4 separate regions of the Homo sapiens genome follow, and regions 1, 3 and 4 are each reported to be linked to region 2. Evidence: microRNA targets listed by miRTarBase, many of them from high-throughput screens and not tested one by one. Region 2 holds a microRNA gene; each other region holds the end of a gene's coding sequence.
What was found. Region 2 holds the annotated microRNA hsa-miR-579-3p (UUCAUUUGGUAUAAACCGCGAUU, at 2,221-2,243, opposite strand). A microRNA usually pairs through its seed, bases 2 to 8, with sites in the 3' UTR of a target mRNA and lowers its output. Matches are read on the target gene's strand: a 7mer-m8 pairs with bases 2 to 8, a 7mer-A1 pairs with bases 2 to 7 and ends in A, and an 8mer does both.

Region 1: miRTarBase lists STARD7 as a target of hsa-miR-579-3p. Seed matches in the 3' UTR shown: 7mer-m8 at 3,306-3,312.
Region 3: the mRNA of FANCF is a reported target of hsa-miR-579-3p. Seed matches in the 3' UTR shown: 7mer-A1 at 360-366, 7mer-A1 at 876-882, 7mer-A1 at 1,389-1,395 and 7mer-A1 at 2,374-2,380.
Region 4: miRTarBase lists TMEM72 as a target of hsa-miR-579-3p. Seed matches in the 3' UTR shown: 7mer-A1 at 1,461-1,467 and 7mer-m8 at 1,993-1,999.

What each region holds. Positions count from the first base shown.
Region 1 is chr2:96,182,993-96,186,992 of GRCh38, forward strand. STARD7 (StAR related lipid transfer domain containing 7) reads right to left here. Exons shown (of 8, transcript NM_020151.4): 8 at 1,867-3,922. The coding sequence ends at 3,738. Among named protein-coding and RNA genes, the nearest start is that of STARD7-AS1, 23 kb to the right of the region's middle.
Region 2 is chr5:32,392,172-32,396,171 of GRCh38, forward strand. MIR579 (microRNA 579) reads right to left here and starts at 2,304; the gene lies at 2,207-2,304. It overlaps ZFR (zinc finger RNA binding protein), which reads right to left. Exons shown (of 20, transcript NM_016107.5): 11 at 2,988-3,133.
Region 3 is chr11:22,621,002-22,625,001 of GRCh38, reverse strand. It overlaps FANCF (FA complementation group F), which reads left to right. Exons shown (of 1, transcript NM_022725.4): 1 at 1-2,469. The coding sequence ends at 316. Among named protein-coding and RNA genes, the nearest start is that of FANCF, 2.8 kb to the left of the region's middle. RefSeq lists enhancers at 70-119, 130-289.
Region 4 is chr10:44,934,557-44,938,556 of GRCh38, forward strand. TMEM72 (transmembrane protein 72) reads left to right here. Exons shown (of 5, transcript NM_001123376.3): 5 at 100-2,454. The coding sequence ends at 578. The region is part of intron 1 of TMEM72-AS1 (TMEM72 antisense RNA 1); the gene reads right to left. Among named protein-coding and RNA genes, the nearest start is that of TMEM72-AS1, 23 kb to the right of the region's middle. RefSeq lists an enhancer at 1,025-1,319.

The DNA of each region.
Region 1 (4,000 bases), not on the chromosome of region 2:
AATTGGCAGGGCGTGGTGGCAGGCACCTGTAATCCAAACTACTTGGGAGGCTGAGGCAGAATAGCTTGAACCCAGGAGGCAGAGGTTGCAGTGAGCTGAAATCGAGCCACTGTACTCCAGCCCGGTCAACAGTCCGAGACTCTGTCTCGGGAAAAAAAAAAAAAAAAAGCTTTAAAATTTTATCACCAGTGTAGTTTTGTGTATCTAACACCACAGTTGACTGTGGTGGTAGACCAGCATCGCAAGGGATCCCTGGTGTTGCTCTGGTTTGTTGTTTGGTTTTTCGAGTTTCGCTCGTTGCCCAGGCTGGAGTGCAATGGTGTGATCTTGGCTCACTGAAACCTCTGCCTCCCGGGTTCAAGCAAATCTCTCGCCTCAGCCTCCTGAGTAGCTGGGATTACAGGTACCCACCACTGTGTCCAGCTAATTTTTTTGTATTTTTAGTAGAGACGGGGTTTCACCATATTGCCCTGGTTGGTCTCAACCTCCTGACCTCGGGCGATCCGCCTGCCTCGGCTTCCCAAAGTGTCAGGATTACAGGTGTGAGCCACCCTGCCTGGTCTATGTGGTTTTTTTTTTTTCTTTAAGACAGAGTCTTGCTCTGTCACCTGGGCTGGAGTGCAGTGTCGTGATCTTGGCTCACCGCAACCTCTGCCTCCTGGGTTCAAGTGATTCTCCTGCCTCAGCCTCCTAAGTAGCTGGGATTACAGGCATGCACAACCACACCCAGCTAATTTTGTATTTTTAGAAGAGACGGGGTTTCTCTATGTTGGTCAGGCTGGTCTTGAACTCCCGATCTCAGGTGATCCACCAGCCTCGGCCCCCGAAAGTTACAGGCATGAGTCACTGCGCCCGGCCATTTCTAAATCAATCTTCCATTTCTAAAATTTTGTCACTTAAAAATGTTATAGGCCGGGCACGGTGGCTCACGCCTGTAATCCCAACACTTTGGGAGGCCAAGGTGGGTGGATCACTTAAGGCCAGGAGTTCGAGACCAGCCTGGCTAACATGGTGAAAGCCCATCTCTACTAAAAATACAAAAATTAGCCAGGTTTGGTGGCACACACCTGTAGTCCCAGATACTAGGGAGGCTGAGACAGGAGAATTGCTCGAACCCGGGAGGTAGAGGTTGCAGTGAGCCGAGGTCTCGTCACTGGACTCCAGCCTAGGCGAGAGTGAGACTCCGTCTCAAAAAAAAAAAAATTAGAGAGGTAAAACACAAATGAGGTTGAAAGAGAATAAAGAGCAGAGTGTGAGGCAGAGCCAGGATGGCCGATGGAAGGGCTGCGGCTTGCAAGCATGAGATGGGGCGTGCGGTTCTCTGGAATCAGATGGTACACCACACAGGGACGTGTGCCTTGTGTGTTCCTATGCAGCTCAGTTCAACTGGGTGTGCTTTTGTGTTCACCTAGTGCTTCCCACAGGCAAAATTACACATAAACTCATGTTATGCTCAGAGCATGCCAGCAGGACTGCCCCTCCGCCAAGAGCGCTGACTTGACCCTCTCCTCAACCTCAACCCTAGACCTCAGGCCTGCTTCTGTCCCTCCTGATTTCTACCGTCTGCTAAGCTCTAGCACTGCTCCCTCCAAAGTGATCTTTTTTTAAAGGGAAAGGATATGGGTCAGTATATCAAGCTAGGGAAGTGGACATAGGTGGTTTATTTTCAGTTGCCAAGCAGGTCACTTGGAAAGGGCTCGTGGTCTAGGCAAACTGTGTCAGCCACTATCTACCAAGAATGAACAAGCCCTGCCACTTCCACCTCCCAACTCTCAGAGTAAAATTCTTTTCAACTTTGTGATCAGAAAGAAATGGTAAGTCCAATATGCAAGATTTTTCCACCACCATTTGTCCAAAGACAAACACTTTTTTTTGTACCAATCTTTATGTATTTATTCACACATTTGATAAAAATGTCACAGTTAGGAGTGAAATCATTACAATGACATGAGTAACTGTACAGACAGACCCCAAGTGCAGAATCAAATTGCCCTAAGTCAGAACATGGAGCAACCGCAACTCCTTCGCACTTGTGCATGTGTGTGCGCTCGCAGACGCACACACACACACACATATTCTCTCTCTCTCTTATGCACACATCCATCCACATCCCAACAATTGCAGGTGCTAAGTTTGGACATAACCCAGGGACTCTTCCCTGACTTCTGTCAGGTCCTGGAAAGAAGAAGTAATAAATGAAAAGCAGCTGGGACTGCTCGATGCATCTCTCCTCTTCCAACAATGACGCGGAGAAGGCAAGACATACACTGGGGCAGCTACTTCCTTGGCACAAAAATGAACAGGCAACAAGAAGGTCAAGGAAGTGTTTAAGTTAGTCTCAGGTTTAAACCACTTTTCAACACCACAAAACAGTAGCAAGCAGGAAAACAAAAACAAAAACAAAAACAAAAACTCTGGCCCTCAAGACTCCAGAAAAAAGGGAAGGAGGAGGATTTAAAACTTGATCCCTATTATTCTAACAAATTGCAGCATGACCATAAGCAAAACCAGCTCGGTCAAACTGACAGCATCAGATTGTGACCTTATCTGAACAGTGTAGTTCACTTTTATTTTGGCTCTGAAGAGAGGAAGAAAAACTTTTTAGAGGAACTTAATGGTAACATAAACCAAATCTCCACTGTATTAGTATTTGAGACAAGATTACATCTATGCATTCACACAGCTTGTCTGTAGATCTGAGAGCTCCAAGGGAGTGGCCCAGCCCCCATTCCTCTGACTTTAGCCTTCTGAAAAGAACAAGTCAAACCTGAAATATGAAAAATAATACCTGAATCAAAATGGTGTTTTCTATACAATCGGACTAGGGTAGAATCCTGCTCAATTCCTCAACTCCTATTTGACACAAAAGTTAAAAAATTTTTAAACTAAATTTAAATGTGATGTTTTGAGCATCAAAAAGCTACTATCTAAAAGGATTAGTCTCCCAGTGTTCTTGGTAAATGGGGAAGGTTAGGAAGGAGGCAATGATCCAATGAATATAGAAGAACTGGCCGATTCACAGGAAACTTGCTTTGGATAAGGTGAGTCAATGGGTGATATTGTGCAGGCAGGGAGGGAAATTTCTTTGTACAAATTCATGTCCCTGGCCAGGCATGGCCCAGGAGTTCAAGACCAGCCTGGGAAACAGAGTGAAACTCCATCTCTACTTAAAAAAAAAAAAAATTAATAATAACTTCATGTCTCTAGAGATAAAAGCAAGGTGCGGACAAGGCACTTAACATAGCCAAGTATCGTTCACACCCATTCACATCATGATTGTTACCAAGAGCACTCCCAGTAGCCCCTCATTTGAGAGACTCAACTGGCCAACTATACTTTCCAGGTGGACCTGGAGAACTGAAGGAAATCCAAAGCGCTGCACAATCGATGGTGGGATTTGGAATGTCAGCAGAGGAAACTACTCAGAGAAGCAAATGGAGGTCATCCCCTTCTGGCCTGAGGTGAGAGGTTTGTTCCAGATTAGCTCAGTGAGATACCGAATTTCAAAACAGTTGGCCTGAGAATATGACAACACTCCCACAAATGTAGCCTTCTTCTGTTTTGATAAGAGCAATAAGGGCTCTGAATGAAATGGGACATCAGTTATTGAATTATCTTGCACTGGAAGTTACAGCAGATGCCTTCTAATACATGTGGCATGTCCCCCTTCTACAGCAGAGTGATAACGGACTGAGACAGGGCTAGAAGCACCTTGTCCCTTCTTATCCCAAAGCCTGTCAAGCATACTCAATCCGAGCAGGGCCACAGCTGCCCTCGTTCTTTCGCTCAGAGGACTGGCTGGTGGCCTTGGCTTCACTACTCATTTCCAGAGGCTTAGCTGAGATGTAGTCCTTTACTTTAATCTCCATATTCTTGGCTTTCAGAGTGGCCATGTGCAGCTTCTCCAGGAAATCTGGCATGCCTGTCAGGAGACGAGAATCAGGTTAAGCTGACATACAAACCAACAGTAGGCTCAAAATGAGAAGACCCTATTTCTTTG
Region 2 (4,000 bases):
TTTACTGTTGTTGCTAACAACGTTTAAGTCAAATAAGGGCAGGGACCTTTATCCATTGTTTACCAATTTGTGCTCACTACCTAATACAGTTCCTGGCACACTGTGGATGCTTAATAGTTGGTATTATCAGTGAAAGAGGAAAGCACTGTATAATCTAGCTATAGAAGAGAATTCCCAATATGTTACAAAGGCAGAAACTTCATAAAGGACATAACTGATAAATGTGTAAAAATTAAAACCAACACATACATAATAGTAAAAACTATTTAAAGGTAACCCATAAAAAGGATTATTAATAATAACAACGTAAGAAACGTCTGTACAAATCAACACATAAGAAAAAACAAGCAATTTACCACAAAAGAAGTATAAATAGCCAAACATGAAAACAATTCAAACTGAAACAAAATGGCTATCACATTTAATTGGTAGAGATTTTATTAAGCTGTAGCAGGGGTTCTCCAGGTGCAATTCAGGGACACCAAGTGGTCCCGGAGACCCTTTCAGGAGATCCATGGGGTCAAAATTATTTTCACAATAAGGCCAGTCGTGGTGGCTCATACATGTAATTCCAGCACTTTGGGAGACCGAGGCGGGCAGATCACTTGAGGCCAGGAGTTTGAGACCAGCCTGGTCAACCTGGTGAAAGCCCATCCCTACTAAAAATGCAAAAATTAGCCAGGCGTGATGGCAGGTGCCTGTAATCCCAACTACTTGGGAGGCTGAGGCAAGAGAATCACTTAAACTCAGGAGGTGGAGAGTGCAGTGAGCCAAGATCGTGCCATTGCACTCCAGCCTCGGCAACACAGTGAGACTCTGTTTAAAAAAAAAAATTATTTTCATAATAAATACTAAAGACACTTACTTGCTCTTTCATTCTAAATGTACAGTGAAATTATCCAGAGGCAACATGTGTTATTCACCACATATGAACACAAAAGCAAACATGAGAATCTTGCTGCCTTCTGTTAAAACCAGACATTAAAGAGATGTACAAAAATGTAAAATAGCATAACTTTTCCCACTATTCTGTGGAATAATTTTTTTACTGTATTTTATTGATTAAATATATCGTGTAATATTTTAACAAATATACATGTAACCATATTTCAAAAAATAATTAAAATGTCATTTTAAAATGAATTAACAAATATTTAAATTTCTTAGTTTTAAATTTTTTTTTTTTTTTGAGACGGAGTTTTGTTCTTGTTGCCCAGGCTGGAGTATAATGGCGCGATCTCGCCTCACCGCAACCTCCTCTTCCCGGGTTCAAGCAATTCTCCTGCCTCAGCCTCCTGAGTAGCCGGAATTACAGGCATGCGCCACCACGCCGGCTAATTTTGTATTTTTAGTAGAGATGGGAATTTCTCCATGTTGGTCAGGCTGGTCTTGAATCCCGACCTCAGGTGATCCACCCACCTCAGCCTCCCAAAGTGTTGGGATTACAGGTATGAGCAACTGTGCCCGGCCAGTTTTAATTTTTAATACAGTAAGTCTTGACAGGTATAACCCACATAAGGACTCTTTGGAGTCCTTGATAATTGAGGATAAAGGATCCTGAGACCAAAAAGTTTGAGAACCACTGAGTTATGCTATCCAGTATAGGCAGACATGTGAGCATCCTTCAAACATTTCCATTTCCCATATTCTATTATTAGCAACTAACGATAATGTATGCAGTAATATCGCCTCAATAGGTTCACATACTTGGTGAAAGAAACAAAAAAGTGCCTCAAGGAGGGTCAAGATATTAATAACTATAATAAGGAAACACTGGAAACTACCTAAATATCTAAACAATAACAACAAGGATTGGTTATGAAGAAAATTTTACATATGCACAAAAATTACTATGTCCTCATGAAAAACAAAATAATCCGAATTTAGTTTTTAAAGTTGAAGGTATGTAAATGAAAAAAGTGGATTATGAAAATACGTGTATGGTATGTTTCTGCTAAAACTGTATTTTAAAAGTTATACAAAAATATTCACAGCAGCAATACTCATAATAGTCAAAATGTGGAAACAAGTTGCATGTCCATCAACTAATGAACGAATAAACAAAATGTGGTACATAAGGATGTATTATTCAGTATTATTTAGTCATAAAAGACAATGGAATACTGAAACATGTTACAATCTGGATGAACCATGAAAACACGCTAAGTGAACGATGCCAGACACAAAAGACCATAGACTGTAGTAAGTTGATGCAAAAATAATCGCGGTTTATACCAAATGAATTTATTAATTCAAATCGTCATCTGGCACAAACCGCGATTACTTTTGCATTAACCTAATATGACTCCATTTATATGAAATCTCTAGAATAGGCAAATCTATAGAGACAGAAAGGTTAGAGGTTGTCCAGGGCTGGGGCTGGGGGAGATACTAGGTATGTGGGACACATGGGGAATTATTGTTAATGGGTACGTGATTTCTTTTGAGGGTGATGAACTGTTCTAAATTGATTGTGGTGATTGTTACACAACTCTGTCACTGTATAAGTTTAGAAGATATGTTATATTTCAATAAAACTTAACATTTGTATCTTTATATATATATAAACAAATATTTGAAATATGTTTTCTCAATTCTCCTTCCCTGTAGCCACTAAAGTTTCTTTATGGACATTATTAACATGTAGAATCTATCAAATCTTATACTTCTATCAGGAAATGTATGTCTATTTTGCTTGTTTGAAACCGAGGCACTTATTTATAATATGAAACTATTTCTTCATATGTTTAATTTATAAAAGATGCCACTTAAACATATAACTCTAATACCAAGGCCACAGTAAAATATTAGTATAGCCAGTAACAATTTTAATGCATGTCTTTCCTAGACCTAGGATCTTCCTCAAGAGTGAAAATTGGAAGTAAATAAATCTGGATTGCTTTGAATGGGAGTCACATGCTCAGAATGGCTAAGTTTTTAAGAAAGGCTGAACCACTTACCAGGCTATTAAAAGTTAAAGATATTACCTCATTTCCATTCTCCAACGCTCCTCTTCTTCTCGTCTTCGCCAGTACTCCTCCTTCTGCATTTGCTTCCTCATTTTCTCTTCTTGAATCTTTCTTGCTCGAATACTAGGCTTTACTTCTACTTGCAAATCTGGATTTACTTTTTTCTATTAATATAAATAAGACATTTAAAAAACAGCAGCCCCAAAACAATCTACATGTATTTTTAATCATACAATTACACTTATTCTTTAATCACGGAGGCTTTTAGTTGCAAGTTTCCCACTAGAGAGTAAAATCAATATAATTAAGGTAAATCAGAGAAAAGATTCAAAATACATTAATAAAAATTATGTAAAAAGTATGTAACTTAGTGCTGACCAACAAAAAGTCATGAAATCCTTAGAAAAACTAATGGATATTTAATTTTACTTTACATTTGACCCTTGAACAACAGGGGTTTGAAGTATATGAATACACTTACATCTATGCTGCTGAGTTTCTTCTCCCTCTGCCACCCCTGAGAGAGTAAGACCAACCCCTCCTCTTCTTCCTCAGCCTACTCAACTTGAAGATGATGAGGATGAAGACCTTTATATGATGACCCACTTCCACTTAATGAATAGTAAATATTTTGATTTTCATATTTTCTCAATAATATTTTCTCTTCTCTAGCTTACTTTATTCTAAGAATACAGTATATATGAGATACATGACATACCAAAAATGTGTTAACATAAAAATAACTGTTTATGTTATCAGTAAGGCTTCTGGTCATTAGTAGGCTTTTAGAAGTTTTTAGGGAGTCAAAAGTTATAAGCAGCCTGGAGTCCCAGCACTTTGGGAGGCCAAGGAAGGCAGATCACTTGAGGCCAGGAGTTTCAGACTAGCCCGGCCAACATGGTGAAACGTTCTCTAGAAAAATACAAAAGCTAGCCAGGCATGGTGGCACATGCCTGTAGTCCCAGTTACTTGGGAGGCTGCGGTGGGAGGATCACTGGAGCCCGGGAGGTTGCAGTGAGCCATGTTCATGT
Region 3 (4,000 bases), not on the chromosome of region 2:
GTCTCCTGTCTATCTGGGTCTGCTAACAGACTGGGGTCAACGTTTGCACTATGACCTTCAGAAAGGCATTTGGGTTGGAACTGAGTCCCAAGATGTGCCCTGGGAGGAGTTGCACAATAGGTTTCAAAGCCTCTGTCAGGCCCCTCCACCTCTGAAAGATAAAGTTCTAACTGCCCTGGAGACCTGTAAAGCGCAGGATGGAGATTTTGAAGTACCTGGTCTTAGCATCTGGACAGACCTCTTATTAGCTCTTCGTAGTGGTGCATTTAGGAAAAGACAAGTTTTGGGTCTCAGCGCAGGCCTCAGTTCTGTATAGGCAATGCTGTGTTATTACTTGAATATAGAATATATAGTTTACAAAATGAAAATTACAATGTTCTCACCAAATATATGCCTTCGTGTGTCCAAAGTATAATTATTTTAGATGCTAATTTTGAATAGTTTATTAAACAGTTATAAATATGCAAAGTAGCTGGCATGTAGTGTCACGGATTTTCTGGATAGAGGAAGTGATTGGAAGTACTCCACTTAAAGCCATGGAATTAGCAATAGTTTGCTTTTTAATAGAAGGCCCATTTGTAAGAATGTTGAAAATATGTGTACCGTTTAAAGAAAAAGCAGCTTTAAAGTGACAAACAAAATACCCTTTTTCTTTTAGTATGGTTTATTTTTCTAGGTTTTCTGTCCCTCCCTCAGTAGTGAAGAGTTTTCTTTATTCCTGGCAGTGTCAGGAATATTGGTTTGAAAAGCTGTTGGCCTATCTGGAGTTTGGCCTTGTTAACCTAGTATTCTAACCAGTTAACCAGCCTTAGTATGCATTAAAATTGTATTGTTCAGAAAGTTTGTTTCTCATTTTCTGCAAATTCTTACTTTGAAAATGAATCACCACATAGTATGTCCCTTTAAAGCATTGACGCACAGACAAATGTTTAAAGCACAGTAAATACGAATATATGCCTTTGGATATTAAATTAATGCTTGATGATAAAAGAATCAAACTTTTTTTTTTTTGAGATGGAGTCTCGCTCTGTCACCCAGACTGGAGTGCAGTGGTGTGATCACTGCTCAGTGCAACCTCTGCCTCCCAGGATCAAGCAATTCTGACTCAGCCTCCCAAGTAGCTGGGATTACAGGCGCAGGCCACCATGCCCGGCTAATTTTTTGTATTTTTAGTAGAGACGGGGTTTCACCATGCTGGCCAGGCTGGTCTCAAACACCTGACCTTGTGATCCGTCCGCCTTGGCCTCCCAAAGTGCTGGGATTACAGGCGTGAGCCACCGCGCCTGGCCAAAACAACATTTTAAGTAGAAGATCCAGGTTTTAGTGCAGCTTCTGCCGTTAACTAGGTTAATAAATCACAACCTTGGGGCCACAGTTGCCTTATATGTAAATGAAGTGTTTAGAATAAAATAGTTAAATTTCCTTATTTTTCCCTTGGTGGCTGCCCTGTGGAAACAGTTTAGAATATTTGTTTTGTGTGTAGGAACCTAGTTGTGTTAGTTTACCTGGGTGTTCCACAGCTGATAGTGATTGCCTTGAATAAATTCAAGGGCAATTTATTCATTTTTACTAGGGAGATAGACCTTTACAGCAATCAAGATATTTTTGTCCATATCCAGGTTAGCTGGTAAGAGGATTTTTTTGGAGAAAAAAATGATATTTAGAAAGTTAATTTCTAATTCCGGAATGGAATAAAAACAATATGAGTAGTGTAATCTTGTAGAAAAAGAGTTGTATAATCTTGTAGAATTTCTCATTCTGTGGTACAACCCAGGGGTAAACTATTATTCCAGTAGTCAGTACACTTTTCTAGATAAATCTTGAGTGAAAACCAGCAATTTCTTTTTCCTTGTGGTCTGATTCCTTTTTCTAATCCATGAAGGCCATCTTGTAGATTACATTTATCATTAATGCAAGAATAAAGACAATTCCTCCTGTCAGTTGCGTGAATTTTTTTTAAGAAACAACCCAGTGAAGAGTTCTACCATAGCAAGGCCTAATGTTAGCTTTAGCTTTAGAAAATAACAGTTTGTGAACTTACTTCCCTATATTTGCAGCTGTATCTCACACTATGATTTACAATAAAATTGTAAAGATTGACAATAGACTTAAGAAATAACATTTTAAAATCTATTTTATACTTACCATTTATTATTCTGTTATTTTAGTCTCCATATGTTCATTACATACATAATCTTATTTAATCTTCACACCAAAACTGTATTCTTATGAATATACGCTAAAAGATTAAGTAAAATGCCCAAGGGTATAAACAAAAGCAACATGAAAGTGGAAGCCGTATCTGTCATTTATTTTATTTCCAGAAGCCTAGCACAGTGTCCAGCATATGGTAGATACTTGTAGTGTTTGAATAAATGAAACCAGCATTAGAGCTTTATATACTTTCTCTTAAGGACTTGAAAAGATTAGGAATCTACGCATACACTGAGAGAGAAAAAAGTGAGAGGAAGACTATAAAAATAGAATATTTGATAACTTCTTTATAAAATCTAGAGATATTTATTTTGTGTTTTTTCCCTATGTCCTATCAAATGAGGGAGCACTATTGAAATCTCCCATTGTAACATTGTTTCAGGAAATTTTATCAATTATCATCTTATGTATTTTGAGCAATTTTATGACATGCAAACAAATATAGAATCGTTATATCATCTTAATGAATTGAACCTTTTGTTTGTAGTGACTGCTTTTCTGCTTTAAAGTCTATTTTTTTCTATTATCATTGTCATATATTAACACTGTATGATTGGACTTTTTCCTGCTATCCTATTTTGTGCTTTCCACTTCCTTTGATTTCTCTATGTTTCACTTCTCAGTTCTTTAATTGACTAAATATTTGTTTGTCTTCTTATTTCATGATATTTTCCCCTCTACCAGTTAGGATGTTAATTCTATACCCATGCTTTTACTCTCAAAACTTACCATATTTAACTTAAAAATATCTAATATTAGTATCTTAACCCTCCTTCTTAATGATACTATGGACCTTAGGAAACTTTAACCCTGATCTCTTATCTATAAACTCTCAAGTTATTATCCAGTGTTTTGGTTTAACAATTTTGTTTCCCATGATTGTACCTCAAATTCCCTTGGAGAAGGTCTCTTGGTGGTAAACTCAGTTTTTATTTACTAAGATCGTTCCTTGTTGTTGTTGGAAGGTAGTTTTGCTGTGTTCCTGATTTCAGGTTAACATGTTAAAGATATTAACTCTTTTCTGGTTTTCATTGTTGATAAGAAAGCTATTCGTCTACTTGTGGTTATTTTGTAGAGTGATTTCTTCTTTCTGTTTATTTTAAGGTGGTCCCGATTTCAGTATCTATAGTCACTTCAGAATATCTAATTGTAAATTTCTGTTTTTCTTGCTTGTTTTATGTTGTGTTTCATTTATGTGTGGATATGTGTTTTTCTTCATTCTGAAAAATTTCCAGCCATTTTTCCCCAATATTTCCTTTCTTCCACTTTTTAAAAATCATTCCTGTCACTTTGATCGGGCCTATATTAGATCTTAGATCTTCTCACACTACTCATATCATGTAACCGCTCTGTCCCAGTTTCTATCTCCATATCATTCTATTTTGCTTTGGAAATTGCTGTTATATCCCAAGATCAATATTCCCCATCTTCATTTTAGCCTACCACCAGGTTTTAGCTGAAAATGGCCACCCAGATAGAGAGTAAATTTCCCAATTTCTCCTACAGTTACATGTGGCGATAATGCTAGGTTTTGGTTACTTTTATATAAGCAGAAGTGATATGTACAACTTAATATTCATTCCCTAGAAATCTGAAGTTATTTGCCCTTAATACTCTGCTTCTCCCTTTTAATGGGCTAGAAAGTTAATTTGCTGCTAGTTTGCTGCTACCTTGAATCATATGGCTGAAGATGACTGGGACAATTGCTGTAGACCCAAAGATGAAGTCACATGTACAGAATGGCAAAACAGAGCCCACCTACCTAGCTTGTCCTGTTAATATAGGA
Region 4 (4,000 bases), not on the chromosome of region 2:
AGCGCCGGGTTGCAGGAGCTCTGCTGCACGACATGCTTGCAAGGACTCCGGATTTTTTCCGTGACTCCTCTAGAGCCCTGACCTCTGGCTCTTTTCCAGGCTCCATGCTCATCATCACCGGCCTGGCCTACTTCCTTCTGAGCAAGCGGAAGAAGAGGAAAGCTGCCCCCGAGGTGCTGGCCTCCCCAGAGCAGTACACAGACCCCTCTAGCAGCGCTGTGAGCACCACCGGCTCTGGGGACACAGAGCAAACCTACACTTTCCATGGGGCCCTCAAGGAGGGGCCCAGCTCCCTTTTCATCCACATGAAGAGTATCCTGAAGGGGACTAAGAAGCCCAGTGCCCTCCAGCCCCCCAACACCCTGATGGAGCTGAGCCTGGAGCCAGCCGACTCCCTGGCCAAGAAGAAGCAGGTGCACTTTGAAGACAACTTGGTCCGCATAGTCCCCTCCCTCGCCGAAGGTCTGGATGATGGGGACAGTGAGCCAGAGGAGACCACCTCTGACACGACACCCATCATTCCCCCTCCCCAGGCCCCACTCTTCCTGTCATCTCTTACAGCCACCGGCCTGTTCTGAGCGCTTGCTCCAGCCTGGAGGACGCTCAGTGAGGGGTCTACCTAGCTCAATGGCCCTCCCTGGAGTTTCAGGGTCTTCTCTGGTCAGCTTTTCAAGGGGTAACCAGACACCCCCACACTGGCTGGGCCCCTGAGGCCATCAGGAGGTGTGACTGGCCAGCATTTCTGGAGAGGCCTCGAGGGAGGCACAAACAAGGCTCACGCCACCTCAAGCCAGCACAAGCTCCTTCCTCCTGGCCACAGGTGGGGAAACCCTTATGCTTCCCCAACAAGACCATCACTGCCACTGCGCACGAGGCTGCAGGTGCCATTGACTCAGCCCAGAAGGGACAGAGGATGTCTGCCCAGCAAAAGCCTCTGGGCTTTTCTTACTCCCAACCCAGGGCACAACACTCAGTGAGGAACCTATGGTCCACCCATCTCTGCAGGCCCAGGGAAGTGTCAGTAACTTAAGCATCTCTAAGGCAGAGAAGGTGGCTGTGGGTCTTGACCAACCAAGACTGCTCAGGGTCGGGAGGGGAGGCTGCAGGCCTCTGGTGGGAGCAGCCGGGCCGTGGGCCACATTCTCTGCATGCTCTAGGGCTGGGGCTGAGCTGCTCAGGAAAACAATGCCGCTCTGTGCTCACTGTGGGAAAGCCAGGCCAGATGAGCAAAGCTCATTCCAGAAACATGGCTGGGGACTTCCAGCCTCCTTACCACATGGCCTTTCCAAGATTCCAGGTTGATGATGCAAACTGAACGCAGTGAATGCCAGGGCCCAGAAGGCAATGTCTGCTGTGGGCAGGACCACAGAGGCTGCCCAGGGGTGGCACAGCACAGAGAAGTGTCAGTGCCGTGTTTAGGCACTTGGTAGCAGAATAGGTGATAAATATAAATGTCTTCAAAATGAAAGGAAGTGAGGGGGGAAGAAGAGGAGGGAAAATGGGAGGATAGGAGGAAGTGGGCAGGCAGGCAAGTTCTCTGCCATGGGGCCACGGAAGTGACAGTTAACCCAGAAGGAACAAAGACATCTGAATCAGATATTCCTTTGTAAATCTGTAAAGGATTTGCAATATAGGCTTTACTTCTAAAAATTGTTGTCGGGTCCATGAGGCTGTTGCCAGGAAGAGCACACACACCATTCTTCATGGCAACTGCAGTGAGGGAGCAGTCAGGAGGAAGAGTCCTGTGGCTTCTCAGTCCCTGTGGAGGCTAACGCAAAGCTCTGTAGAACAAGCCTTAGAGTGCATGCTCTATGGTCTAATGAGAAACTTGTGTTTGTGCTTGCACACGTTTCAATGTTCCCTACAGGATATTTTACAAAGGTATGAAAATAATGGCCAACCAGAAGCTAGTATCAGTTTGGGGCCTAAATGCAGCAGGTGTTCCTGATAAGCAGATAAGCAGAGCTCTTCCTGCAGTAGCCCAGGTCTCACCAAATGACAAATGGCTAATCAAGACACTCCTGCAAGCCCTTGATGGTGAGAGCTGCAGAGCTGTTTCTTCAGCTGCCATCAAGGCAGGACCTCAGGACCTGACTGTCTACAGTCAGGGAATAGTGAACAATATGGGATATGGGTATAGGTAGGTGGTAGACAAGGATCGTGCCCCATGGCTGATGGGCCGGGTGTCTCAGGCAGGCCCCCTGTGCACAGAAAGAGCCTAAGTGCAGAGAAGCCAGGCATCTTTCCCCTGTCAACTGTGGAAGGGGAATGTGATGGCCACAGACACCCTCATGGCACAGACATGGCCAGCCTCTGACGTTCCTCTGCATCAGAGTAGTTCTGTCCTCGAAGCCCCAGTCAGCAGAGCTGGATGACCAGATCGCAAGAAGCAAACCAGAAAGTGTGATGGCAGAGATGTCAGATCCCGTTTAATAAACACTTCAGTAAACCCAAGTGTGGAGTGTTGTTTTGGGTGTGTTTTAGAGATGTGTGTTGGGAGCACCCTTTTGGAGGTGTCTTAGTGTGTGCCGGGAGTTCCAGTGATGATGCGATGGAATTCTGAGGCACATAGGCTTCCTGGAGATTGTCATCAGTTAAGAGAGTGTCTGCTGGTGTGCAGCATTACAGGACAATTATGATCTTACCTAGGTTAGTAAAGTTCTCAAACACTCTTATGGCTACAAAACAAAAACAAAAAGCTGGAGTGAGATCATTAAATAGGCCAGAATTCTCACCCATCAGTGGACCAAGCAAGAAAGTGGCATCTTCCTCATAAGCAGATGAGCACCACGTGTCTCCATTGATTCTCAGCCTGTGACCTCTATGACCACATCCTTGTCCAGAAGAATCCCTGCAAAGCAGATGTTGTAATGATCTGCATCCTTGCCAAGAAGCAAAGACTAGAAGGACTGGCCCTGCCATGATCCCCCTCCCTACCTCAGCAGAGAGGGGAGCATTTTGTATATGAAGAACAGAGTGACAGGAAGAAGAAAGAGCACCAGGCTGAGCACCATTCGACCTCCACTAATACACGTCTGACCTTGTTCAAGCCCCTTCGCATCTCTGGCTCAGGTTCCCCTATTAAGTGCAAATCACAGCAGTAACTCAACAAGACATGGGCAAGTGCTTTTCAGAACTACAAACAAGTCACTGTGATTGCACTACATCCCTATCCCTACGGGGGACTCGCCGTGAGGGGGCACTGAGGAAGCACCACCCTGACTTGCGTCTGTGGCAAGGCCAGTTCAGGTCCAAGAGCTCCTGTCTCCACTCCAGGTTCCAGGGCTAGAGCCTGGGGAGGGTACAGCCCCCAATGCCTACCTCAGAGGAAAGTCATAGTGGACCCCACATTTCCTAGCAGCTGCACCCTGGGGGTCACACCGTGGGTCCTCTGTCTCCCTCTCCCATCAGCCCTAAGGTGGTTTTTTGTTGTTAGTTTTCTGAAATATCTTTATTGAGATATAATTCATATAACATAAAATTCACCAATTTAAAGTGTACAGCTAGGCCAGGCACAGTGGCTCATGCCTGTAATCCAAGCACTTTGGGAGTCCAAGGCGAGTGGATCACTTGAGCCCAGGAATTTGAGACCAGCCTGGGCAACATAGCAAAACCCTGTTCCTACCAAAAGTACAAAAAATTAGCCAGGCATGGTGGCACACACGTATAGTTCCAGCTACTCAAGAGGCAAAGATGGAAGAATGGTTTGAGCCCAGGAGGTCAAGGCTGCAGTGAGCTGAGATCATTCCACTGCACTCCAGCCTGGGCAACTGAGTGAGACCCTGTCTCAAAATAATCTTTAAAAAATTTTTAAATTAAAAAAAAGTGTACAGCTAAACAGTTTCTAGTAGATTTTTTTTTTTTAATACATGGAGTCTCCTTTTGTCACCAGGCTGGAGTGCAGTGGTGTGATCTTGGCTCACTGCATCCTCTGCCCCCAGGGTTCAAGCGATGCTCCTGCCTCAGCCTCCTGAGTAGCTGGGACTACAGGCGTGCACCA